Homo sapiens: one gene and its partners. The protein of the gene in region 1 purifies or fractionates together with the protein of each later gene. This does not show direct contact. Each region holds a gene or a part of one and is shown in the gene's direction. Other genes may lie near its edges.

Evidence for each region.
Region 2: the proteins of PHOSPHO2 (region 1) and CPNE4 purify together in Homo sapiens (affinity purification with mass spectrometry; one large-scale study listed by BioGRID and IntAct). This does not show direct contact.
Region 3: the proteins of PHOSPHO2 (region 1) and SIGLEC5 purify together in Homo sapiens (affinity purification with mass spectrometry; 2 studies listed by BioGRID and IntAct, with this or other methods). This does not show direct contact.

The regions. Positions count from the first base shown.
Region 1 is NC_000002.12:169,699,714-169,702,241, forward strand, and holds the end of PHOSPHO2 (pyridoxal phosphate phosphatase PHOSPHO2), read left to right. Parts: intron 1-1,232; 5' UTR 1,233-1,258; coding exon 1,259-1,984; 3' UTR 1,985-1,995; downstream 1,996-2,528. UniProt on the Homo sapiens protein: Phosphatase that has high activity toward pyridoxal 5'-phosphate (PLP).
Region 2 is NC_000003.12:131,552,369-131,556,026, reverse strand, and holds part of CPNE4 (copine-4), read left to right. Parts: intron 1-475; coding exon 476-530; intron 531-3,535; coding exon 3,536-3,587; intron 3,588-3,658.
Region 3 is NC_000019.10:51,623,766-51,627,423, reverse strand, and holds part of SIGLEC5 (sialic acid-binding Ig-like lectin 5 isoform 1 precursor), read left to right. Parts: intron 1-175; coding exon 176-275; intron 276-1,310; coding exon 1,311-1,392; intron 1,393-3,658. UniProt on the Homo sapiens protein: Putative adhesion molecule that mediates sialic-acid dependent binding to cells. Binds equally to alpha-2,3-linked and alpha-2,6-linked sialic acid. The sialic acid recognition site may be masked by cis interactions with sialic acids on the same cell surface.

The DNA.
Region 1 (2,528 bases):
AGCCATTCTGACTAGTATAAGATGGTATCTCGTTGTGGCTTTAGTTTGCATTTCTCTAATGATCAGTGATGTTGAGCTTTTTTTTCATATATTTCTTGGGCACATGTATTGTCTTCTTTCCAGAATTGTCTGTTTGTGTCTTTGCCCACTTCTTAATGGGGCTGTTTGTTTTTTCTTGTAAATTTGTTTAAGTTCCTTATCAAGGAACTACATGATTCTTATCAAAAAGGATTTTGGACAGATTTTATGGGCAGAGTCTTTAACTATTTGGGAGCTAAAGGTGTAAGAGAAGATAAAATGAAAAGAGCAGTGACATCGATGCCTTTCACTTCAGGGATGGTGGAACTTTTCAACTTTATAATAGTTGCTGGATATTAGACCTTTGTCAGATGGATAAATTGCAAAAATTTTCTCCCATTCTCTAAGTTGTCTGTTTACTCTGTTGATAGTTTCTTTTGCTGTGCAGAAGCTCTTTAGTTTAATTAGATACCATTTGTCAATTTTTGCTGTTGTTGCATTTGCTTTTGGCATCTTTGTCATGAAACCTTTGCCTTTGCTGTGTCCTGAATTGTATTGCCTAGATTTTCTTCTAGGTTTTTTATAGTGTTGGGTTTTACACTTAAGTCTTTAATCCACCTTGAGTTGATTTTTGTATATGGTGTTAAGGAAGGGGTCCAGTTTGTTTTCTGCATATGGCTAGCCAGTTATCCCAGCACCATTTATTAAATAGGGAATCCTTTCCCCATTGCTTGTTTTTGTTACTAAATACCTTTTCTTAAAAAGTTATTTTACATCTTCCAAGATTTCATGTTATGTTAAATTTGTTCAGAATTTTGGTTAGTACACAGAGAGTCCTTTATACATGATCTGTTATTTAATATGAGGATTGTAAATATTTTAATCTAATAAAATAAGTGTGGTTTGATTGATAATTTAATGATAGTAAGAAATGCTTTTTTTTCTTTCTTATAAATTCTATAAGAAACACACCTCCAGGAACACAATAATACTATGAATGTCCTTTTTATATATTTTGTTTTCCACTTAAAATACTCAAATACGAACTTTGCTTCTTAGAGAAAAGTGGTTAGGTAGTGGTCTTGAAGTGCTTAATTACTTTGTTTATATTCCTCCCTTTAGCAGATTAACATTTAGTTATGTTTATTAAATAAGTATTTTAGCTAGATATGTAAACAGAGTTTGTTTAGGGAATAATATTTCTTCTTTTTCAGGGTAATCCAAATCTATTTCTGGAACCATGAAAATTTTGCTAGTTTTTGACTTTGACAATACAATCATAGATGACAATAGTGACACTTGGATTGTACAATGTGCTCCCAACAAAAAGCTTCCTATTGAACTACGTGATTCTTATCGAAAAGGATTTTGGACAGAATTTATGGGCAGAGTCTTTAAGTATTTGGGAGATAAGGGTGTAAGAGAACATGAAATGAAAAGAGCAGTGACATCATTGCCTTTCACTCCAGGGATGGTGGAACTCTTCAACTTTATAAGAAAGAATAAGGATAAATTTGACTGCATTATTATTTCAGATTCAAATTCGGTCTTCATAGATTGGGTTTTAGAAGCTGCCAGTTTTCATGACATATTTGATAAAGTGTTTACAAATCCAGCAGCTTTTAATAGCAATGGTCATCTCACTGTTGAAAATTATCATACTCATTCTTGCAATAGATGCCCAAAGAATCTTTGCAAAAAGGTAGTTTTGATAGAATTTGTAGATAAACAGTTACAACAGGGAGTGAATTATACACAAATTGTTTATATTGGTGATGGTGGAAATGATGTCTGTCCAGTCACCTTTTTAAAGAATGATGATGTTGCCATGCCACGGAAAGGATATACCTTACAGAAAACTCTTTCCAGAATGTCTCAAAATCTTGAGCCTATGGAATATTCTGTTGTAGTTTGGTCCTCAGGTGTTGATATAATTTCTCATTTACAATTTCTAATAAAGGATTAATATGTCAGCAATTGAAAAGTGTATCACTTAAGATTAGGTTCAGCAGCATAAAACTAAAACCCCAAATACCAGAGGCTTAAAAAAAAAAAAGAGAGAGAATTTTTTTTTCCTCTCACATGAAAGAATTCCAGAGGTAAGTATTTCAGGGTTGCTGTGTTAGTCTACCAACCTCAGCACTTGGCATTCAACCCATGATCCAAGGTTGCTGGTGAAGCTCTAGCCCTCACAGCAGCACTCTGGCCAGCAAGAAAGAGGGCAGTGAGAAAGTTACATCCCCTGTCTAAAGAAATTTCCCAGAAGTTGTACCCAACACTTCTATTTAAATGTCACTGGCCAAACTTAGTCATAATGCCTTACTTGTAAATAGCAAGGAAGGATGGAAAATATAGCTTTCATTCCAGGTAGTCATGTGCCCAGGAAAAGTTGGGGAAAAAAGTACAGAATTGAGTTAGGTACAGCTAGTGGTCTCCACTAAAGGTGGTTGATAGTTTATATTTTTTAATTTATTCCTGGAGCAAGTAAGCATATTTTATTCTCTTAGATA
Region 2 (3,658 bases), on another chromosome or scaffold:
GGCATGATCTTGGGCAAGTCACTTTACCTCTCAAGGCATTTCCCCACCTGCAGAAGGGGAATAACTATCTCTCCTTGTATTTTAAAAGATGATACATACAAAAGGTTCTAACACAGTCAACCATTACAGTTACCTAGTTCATGGTCACTTTTCAAAGGAAACAAAGTTGAAAGTTGAAGTGGAGGCCATTGATGAAAGGGTAGGGCCATTTTATTTCTTAGTATAGAATCTAGCAAAAAAATTAAGGGAGGAAGTTGTAGACTAATGACTGTAATGAACTTAAGGGGCTGTTTCTTGATTTTAATTATCCATGCTATTGCTACCCCCATCACCACAGACAATCAAGAAGCATGAGTCAGCACTGGCATAGCAACATGGCCTAGCAACCTAGTAATGTAGGTTAATGTTTTTCTTTCTCATTAAATGAATAAATGAAGCAACTTCTTGTTTTTTCTTTTCTTCATTTTGGTTTCAGTGACAAAATGTTCCCTGCCTTTGGGTTTGGCGCCAGGATACCTCCAGAGTACACGGTGAGTGAGTGGAGATGTGATCTTCTTCCACTTCACTGTGGTCAAAGGATAACTTGGCTCTTCTTTGCAGCAGTCTCACACTCCTGACTCTGACCTAACTGTGTCAGTAGGGCCTACAGAGTCAGAAATTGTCTTCAGAATCAGTGAGATTAACTCGCCAGGGCCCGTCTCTTGATGAAACCCTATCTCCTGGTATTTTGGATGGGTCTTCTCAGAGGTCCAGATGAAGAGTTTCATTGTTTAGTTTCTTATAAATGTGGTCAGAGTCTGAGAAAACACTCAAGAAGTTGATCTCCAGGGGCTCAGAACCTATTCACTCGTATATCCCCTAGGAAATAGAATTCTATTGGCAATGCCAACTGGGAAAGTCCGTGACAATGGAGTCTACAGACTTTCTTATCCCAAGTCTCCGAGTCCAAGTCTTGTATGGGAGACACAGAGAAGTTTTGAAGAAAGAACTATTATGACTTAGAGAATTGGGAAGCTGAAATGTTCTTCTGAAGACGTTGGAATCCTATTTGGTTTTGATAATGATTTCTCATGACAGAAAAAAGGCAAAGATTGTGTGTAGATAAATTTGCACTGTAATGAGGCTGAGACACTACTGTGATATTCTAGATGCTCCTGTAGAACATTCTCCACAGAGAACTCGTGCCCACTAGGTGGACAGGGCCTTGGAGAGACAGCAGGGTACCTCTCCCAGCCTCCACCTTACCAGTGCCTCTGAGGTCTGAGCTAAGTACAAACAACACTGCCCAATCCTCAATTTCTCTTTTACTGGCTGTGTCTGAGCCACAGGTGAGGAGGTAGATGCTGACATTTGCTCCCTCACTAGAGCCATCATATAAAGGGCTTTCCCCTTAGGTATCCTTTTTGAAAGAGGAAATCAATATCCCTGTTGCTCCTAGAGTGAATAGTGGATGGAATCGCTTGTCTCCCTGACCTGTTCTCCTTCTTTCTTGCCTTGTATTCCACACTGGCCTTTCTGCTGGGCATAGCTACATAATTCTAGAAGCATTTATTAGAAATACAGCTTGTGGAGAGAAAGAATATAGAACAAGAGTTATCAACTGGTGGCCTATAGACATTATTCAGGCCACAAATATGTTATATTTGACACACTTTTAAAAAACGAATTCAGCAATTGCATATATAAAATGTCAGATTTCTGGTTTCTCTTGAAAACCTGAAAGGCCTGGCAACACTAAGATTAAAAGATGACCGATACAAGAATAAGCTGGAGCTGAGGAGATATAGGCCCCTTCAAATCGGGAATGTAAACAGGTGAATGCCCACTTTCTTCATAGAGCTGCTGAATAGCTCAATAGCCATCAGCCCAACTACCCAGGGATTCTTGAGTTTTCACCACATCCCCACCAGGTGGTCTTCCAGCCTCAGGTTGGCCCAACAGGGCTGAGGACAGAGCTATGCACCATACCTTTTTCTCACTAATGACATCTTTTTGGTTCCCTTCCTGGAGTAACTAATCTTTCTTGCTGTTTTCTGAAGTCCTCTTGTTCACTTGATCCCCTAACTCCATCCTTCCTGTCAGCAAAATCCCCTGGTTATTCTTGTTTCAATAGGCATCTCTCACATTTCCCCATTTCGGGTCCCCTAATTTCTCCCATTCCTCAGACAAGCACTGATGATTTGAGCAGCTCAGGTGCCCCCAGGAGAGTTTACAAGGTTGCCACAATTTACTTCTTAGGACAAAATCTGAAAGTATGCATTGAAACTGAAACACAAGCACCTCTCTTTCTTAGTTAGCACTTTCTCAGAAACAGATCTTGAGACAAGGGTTTGGATGCAAATAGTTTATTTAAAAGGTGAGGGAAACCACAATAGAGGTTGGGAAGTGGAAGTCAGCACAGAGTATATTATCAAGTCAGTTACCGCTGTTGGCAACTGGTGCTTAACTCTGCTGAAGAACCCTAGGAGACAATATACAGCACACATGGACCCCAAGGGATAAGGGAGCTGGGATATGTATACATCACCTCCTGTTAATTACTGATTACTCCCAAGGGTCACTTTTAGCCTGTCACTTGGGCAAGCAAGGCAGGCCCTGGAGGCCAAGAAAAAACTTAAGGTAAACAAAGCAAATAAGATGACTGAAGTCAGCTGGCTTACCTGGAAGTGCTAAGAGCAAGGGACTAGGATAAGCACTGAGAGCATCACCGATCACCTCCCACTAAGAAAACAGGTGTCTTTTAACACAGTGACCTAATTTATGGATACCCAAAAGAGTCAGAGCTTGGAAATATCCTTTGAAATGAAATTCTCCATAAAATACCAAATGATTCAATAAAAATGTCCAGATGCCAGAACATCTATCTTGTTTTATCAGGTTTTCGGAAAGAAAAAAGTAAACAATATGTTATTTGACCTTGTGCATAGGTTCTGCCAGGTAGAGGAATTTGTGTTGAAATATTACAAAGTATATTACTTTACTATGTTTCCAAAAGTAGAGTGCAGTCTGTTTTACCTGTAGGTATGTGAAAATCCTCCTGCCCTGTAGTTCTGCATATCATGTTAATGATTCTTAAGTGTCAACTGCTTAGCTGAAGCTTTTATAACCATCGCTATCTTCAGCAGACAGCTTGGGTTATTGAGTTTTTTTGTTTTTATTTTTGTTTTAATCACTGGGTCCAAATAGAGCTCAGCCAAATCTAAGCCTCCAGTCTGTGGCCAGTTCTAACTAGCAGCTATTCAAAGTTATCTTTCTGAAATCTTTTCTTGGATTTTTTTATAAGCCTTATTCTCCCCTCCTGACAGCATTTATCTGATTCTAGAAAATATTCCTGTCACCTCAACTCCACAGGGAGCTTAGAATTCACCCTCCATCTCATATTGATTGTGTAAAGGCTTGAAATGGTTCCTGCTGCTTAACACATAATGAATATAATGGGCATTTGTTTGCAAACTCTAAACCCCAGTGCCTTCTTACTGGATTAAAGTTGTAATTCTTCTTTCTTCCTGTTTTTTAAATTTTAATCGGTGTCTAGGTCTCTCATGACTTTGCAATCAACTTTAATGAAGACAACCCAGAATGTGCAGGTAAAGCACAACGTGAAAGAAAGCCAGTGTCACAGTCCTTCCCTTTGCAGCTTTCCCATTTTAGTTCATCT
Region 3 (3,658 bases), on another chromosome or scaffold:
AGGGGCATGGATCCCAGAGTGATGGATGGTGGGAGAGAGAGGCTGGACTGGTGGTGGGGAGACAGGGTTCTTCATCTCCTGTCTGAGCAGGGCCCTGGAGCAAGTTGCCCAGCAGGTGGGAGGACAAGAGTCTGAGTCCTGGGAGTGAGTTATTGCACGCCCCTCTTTTCTGCAGGGAGATCGAACCTCGGGACAGGAGTGGTTCCTGCAGCCCTTGGTGGTGCTGGTGTCATGGCCCTGCTCTGTATCTGTCTGTGCCTCATCTTCTTTTTAATGTAAGTCTTGGTCCCAGGGAAGGTACAGGGTGGTGTTTGTAGGGAGTAGGAGAGACTGAATCTCAGAAACACAGAGCTAAGGCCAGAGGTGGTGATGTGTGCTTGTGGTTCCAGATGCTCAGGAGTCTGAGGCAGGAGGATCACTTGATCATGGAGGTTGAGGCTGCAGTGAGCCAGGATTGTGCCAATGCACTCCATCCTGGGCCTCAGAGTGAGAGACCCTGTCTTAAAAGAAAAACAAAACAAAACAAAAAGCAGAACTGAGTAGATCCAGAGAGGTCTTCTTTCTTTTTTTCTTTTCTAATAGCTTTATTGAGATACATGTTTTGTACAATTCATCCACTGAAAGTGTACGAGTCAATGGCTTTAAGTATATTGACAGAGTTATGCATCTGTCACCAAAATCAATTTTAGAACATTTTCATCAGCCTAAAGTGAAAAACGAAGACATAAAGAAACCTTGCACCCCTTAGCTATCACTCCTGCTTCTTTCCCCCAGCCCTAACCTATTCCATGTCTCTGTGGATTTGTCTGTCCTGAAGTTGCAGTTGTACTTTGTGTGAATGGAATCACGCGATATGTGGTCCTTTGTGGCTGGCTTCTTTCACTCGGCCTAATGTTTTCAAGATTCATCTATGTTGTAGCATGCATCGATACTTCATTCCTTTTTGTTTTCAAATAATATTCCATTATATAAATGGAACGCATTTGATTTGTGGGTTCAGCTGTTGACGGGTACTTGGGTTGCCTCTGCTTCTTGGCTATGATGCATAACACTGCTATGACCATTCCTGCCATGGTTTTGTGTGTAAGAGGGGGTCTATATGATGGAAATTCAGTCCATGGCCACCCTGACCAAATCCCTGGTTATCCAGGAGGATGGAGCCCTCACTCCGAAGTCAGGAAGGTCTCCGAGTTTAGTTCCGGGGCCTGGATGGCTTCATTGTCATTTTCACCATCTTAGCATGGGATGGGACAACCCGCTAACCCGTGCCTGGGTGGTCCCAGCTGCACTGTGCTGGTTTCTTTCCTTAGAGTGAAAGCCCGCAGGAAGCAAGCAGCTGGGAGACCAGAGAAAATGGATGATGAAGACCCCATTATGGGTACCATCACCTCGGTGAGTGGTTTGGGGATCTTCTCATGTGCATGTCCACTCGGAAAGTCCAGGCTGAGCTCTTCAGCATTCCACCAAACCCACTCCTCCCTCATCACCTGGGAGTTCTCTTCTCTCCTGTTCTCCCCCTTCATATCCCAGAGCCAGGAAATCATTATGTCCCATTCAACCTTCTTTGTTTTGTTTGTTTGTTTGTTTGTTTTTGAGATGGAGTTTCACTCTTGTTACCCAGGCTGGAGTGCAATGGTGCGATCTTGGCTCACTGCAAACTCCACCTCCCAGGTTCAAGCGATTCTCCTGCCTCAGCCTCCCAAGTAGCTGGGATTACAGGCGCACACCACCATGCCCGGCTAATTTTTGTATTTTTAGTAGAGACGGGATTTTGCCATGTTAGGCAGGCAGTTCTTGAACTCCTGACCTCAGGTGATCCGCCCGCCTCGGCCTCCCAAAGTGCTGGGATTACAGGCGTAAGCCACCGCGCCCGGCCACCAACCTTCTTTCTAAAAGTAAAACTAACTTGTCCTTTGCTCATCTTCCCTCCCCACCTCTACTGACCACAGAGCCTGCCTCACTTCCTCCCTGCCTCCATCTCTCATTCCAAACTTCAGGCTGCCAGAATCATCGCCCCAAAACTATTACTTCCCAGGCAGCCTGGAGTTTCAATGTTGTTGTTGTTTGTTCCTGTTGCTTAGAGAATCAGGCCCATGTTCCTTGCCCCACACCAGGTGGCCACTTCAGCCTGTTTCTGTCCTCTGATCCTGCCCCGTGGCCTGGCCACGCTGGCCTTCTGTCTCCATACGGACCTGCTGTCCTACAACTTTGAGCCCTTGCAAGTATAGTTTCTTCCACCTTTCCTTCCCTGTTTCCACCAGACTACCTCATCTAATCCTTCCAGCTCTAATCTCAGTATCTGCTACTCTAGTCATTTCCCCTCCTGTTGATATCTGCCCCTTCTCTTCTGTGTTTACAGCCCTACATGCATCCCCGTCCCCATCACACATCACCACTGCCTTTACCTGTCTCCACCCACTCATCATATCTGTAGAATTCTTTTTTATTTTTATTTTTTTGGAGACGGAGTCCTGCTCTGTCACCCAGGCTGGAGTGCACTGGCGCAACCTCGGCTCACTGCAACCTCTGCCTCCCAGGCTCAAGCAATTCTCCTGCCTCAGCCTCCCAAGTAGCTGGGATTACAGGCATGCACCACCTGGCTAATTTTTGTATTTTTAGTAGAGACGGGGTTTCACCATGTTGGCCAGGGTGGTCTCGAACTCCTGACCTCAGGTGATCTGCCTGCCTCAGCCTCCCAAAGTGCTGGGATTACAGGTGTGAGCCACCGCGTGCGGCCAATATCTGTGGAATTCTTGAAGGACAGGGGCTGGGGCTTCTTTAGCCCCTGCAGTTTTCTCTCCTGCTGTTTCTGTCCAGCGTGTCTCCTCTCCTCTTTTATAAAATTGATCTAGTGTTGCCCCGAACGAATTGTCCAAAATGCTTAGTTCATGACCAAGCTGTCATGACTGGAACAAGCATCATTTACTTTTACTTTTTCACTTTGGTTCATAATATGATAAATAACTGCAAACCCACCATCCAACCTAAGACCTAACACATTGGTGATAACTTGTATCCACCTGTGTTGCTCCCTGATCCATTCCCAGTAACCACTGTTGTGAATCTTGTCTTCCTAGTGTTGTCACATATATGTAGGCTTATGCCACTATTTAGTTTTAATTGTTTATGAATCTACAGAGGGTATCATGTTCCACGCACACTTCTTGGACTTGCTTTGTAGACTCAACATTGTATTATGATTCATTCATGTTGTATAAAGTTGCAGTTGTATTCATTTTTCCTGCTTATAATATATATATTTTTTGAGACAGGGTCTGACTCCATTGCCCAGGTTGGAGTGCAGTGGTGCGATCTCGGCTCATTGCAACCTCCACCTCCCGGGTTCAAGCAACTCTCCTGCCTCAGCTTCCTGAGTAGCTGGGATTACAGGCATGTACCACCACGCAAGGCTCATTTTTGCATTTTTAGTAGCGATGGGGTTTCACCATGTTGGCCAGTCTGGTCTTGATCCACCCACCTTGACCTCCCAAAGTGCTGGGATTATAGGTGTGACGGCTTATAATATTATATTTTATGATTGTGTCTATCACCTAAGCTCATATTGATGCACACTTGAGTTGTTTCCATTTGAGCCGTTCTGAACATTCTTATCCTTGTCTCACCGTACTAACACACACGAGCTTTCCTTTAGCATCAC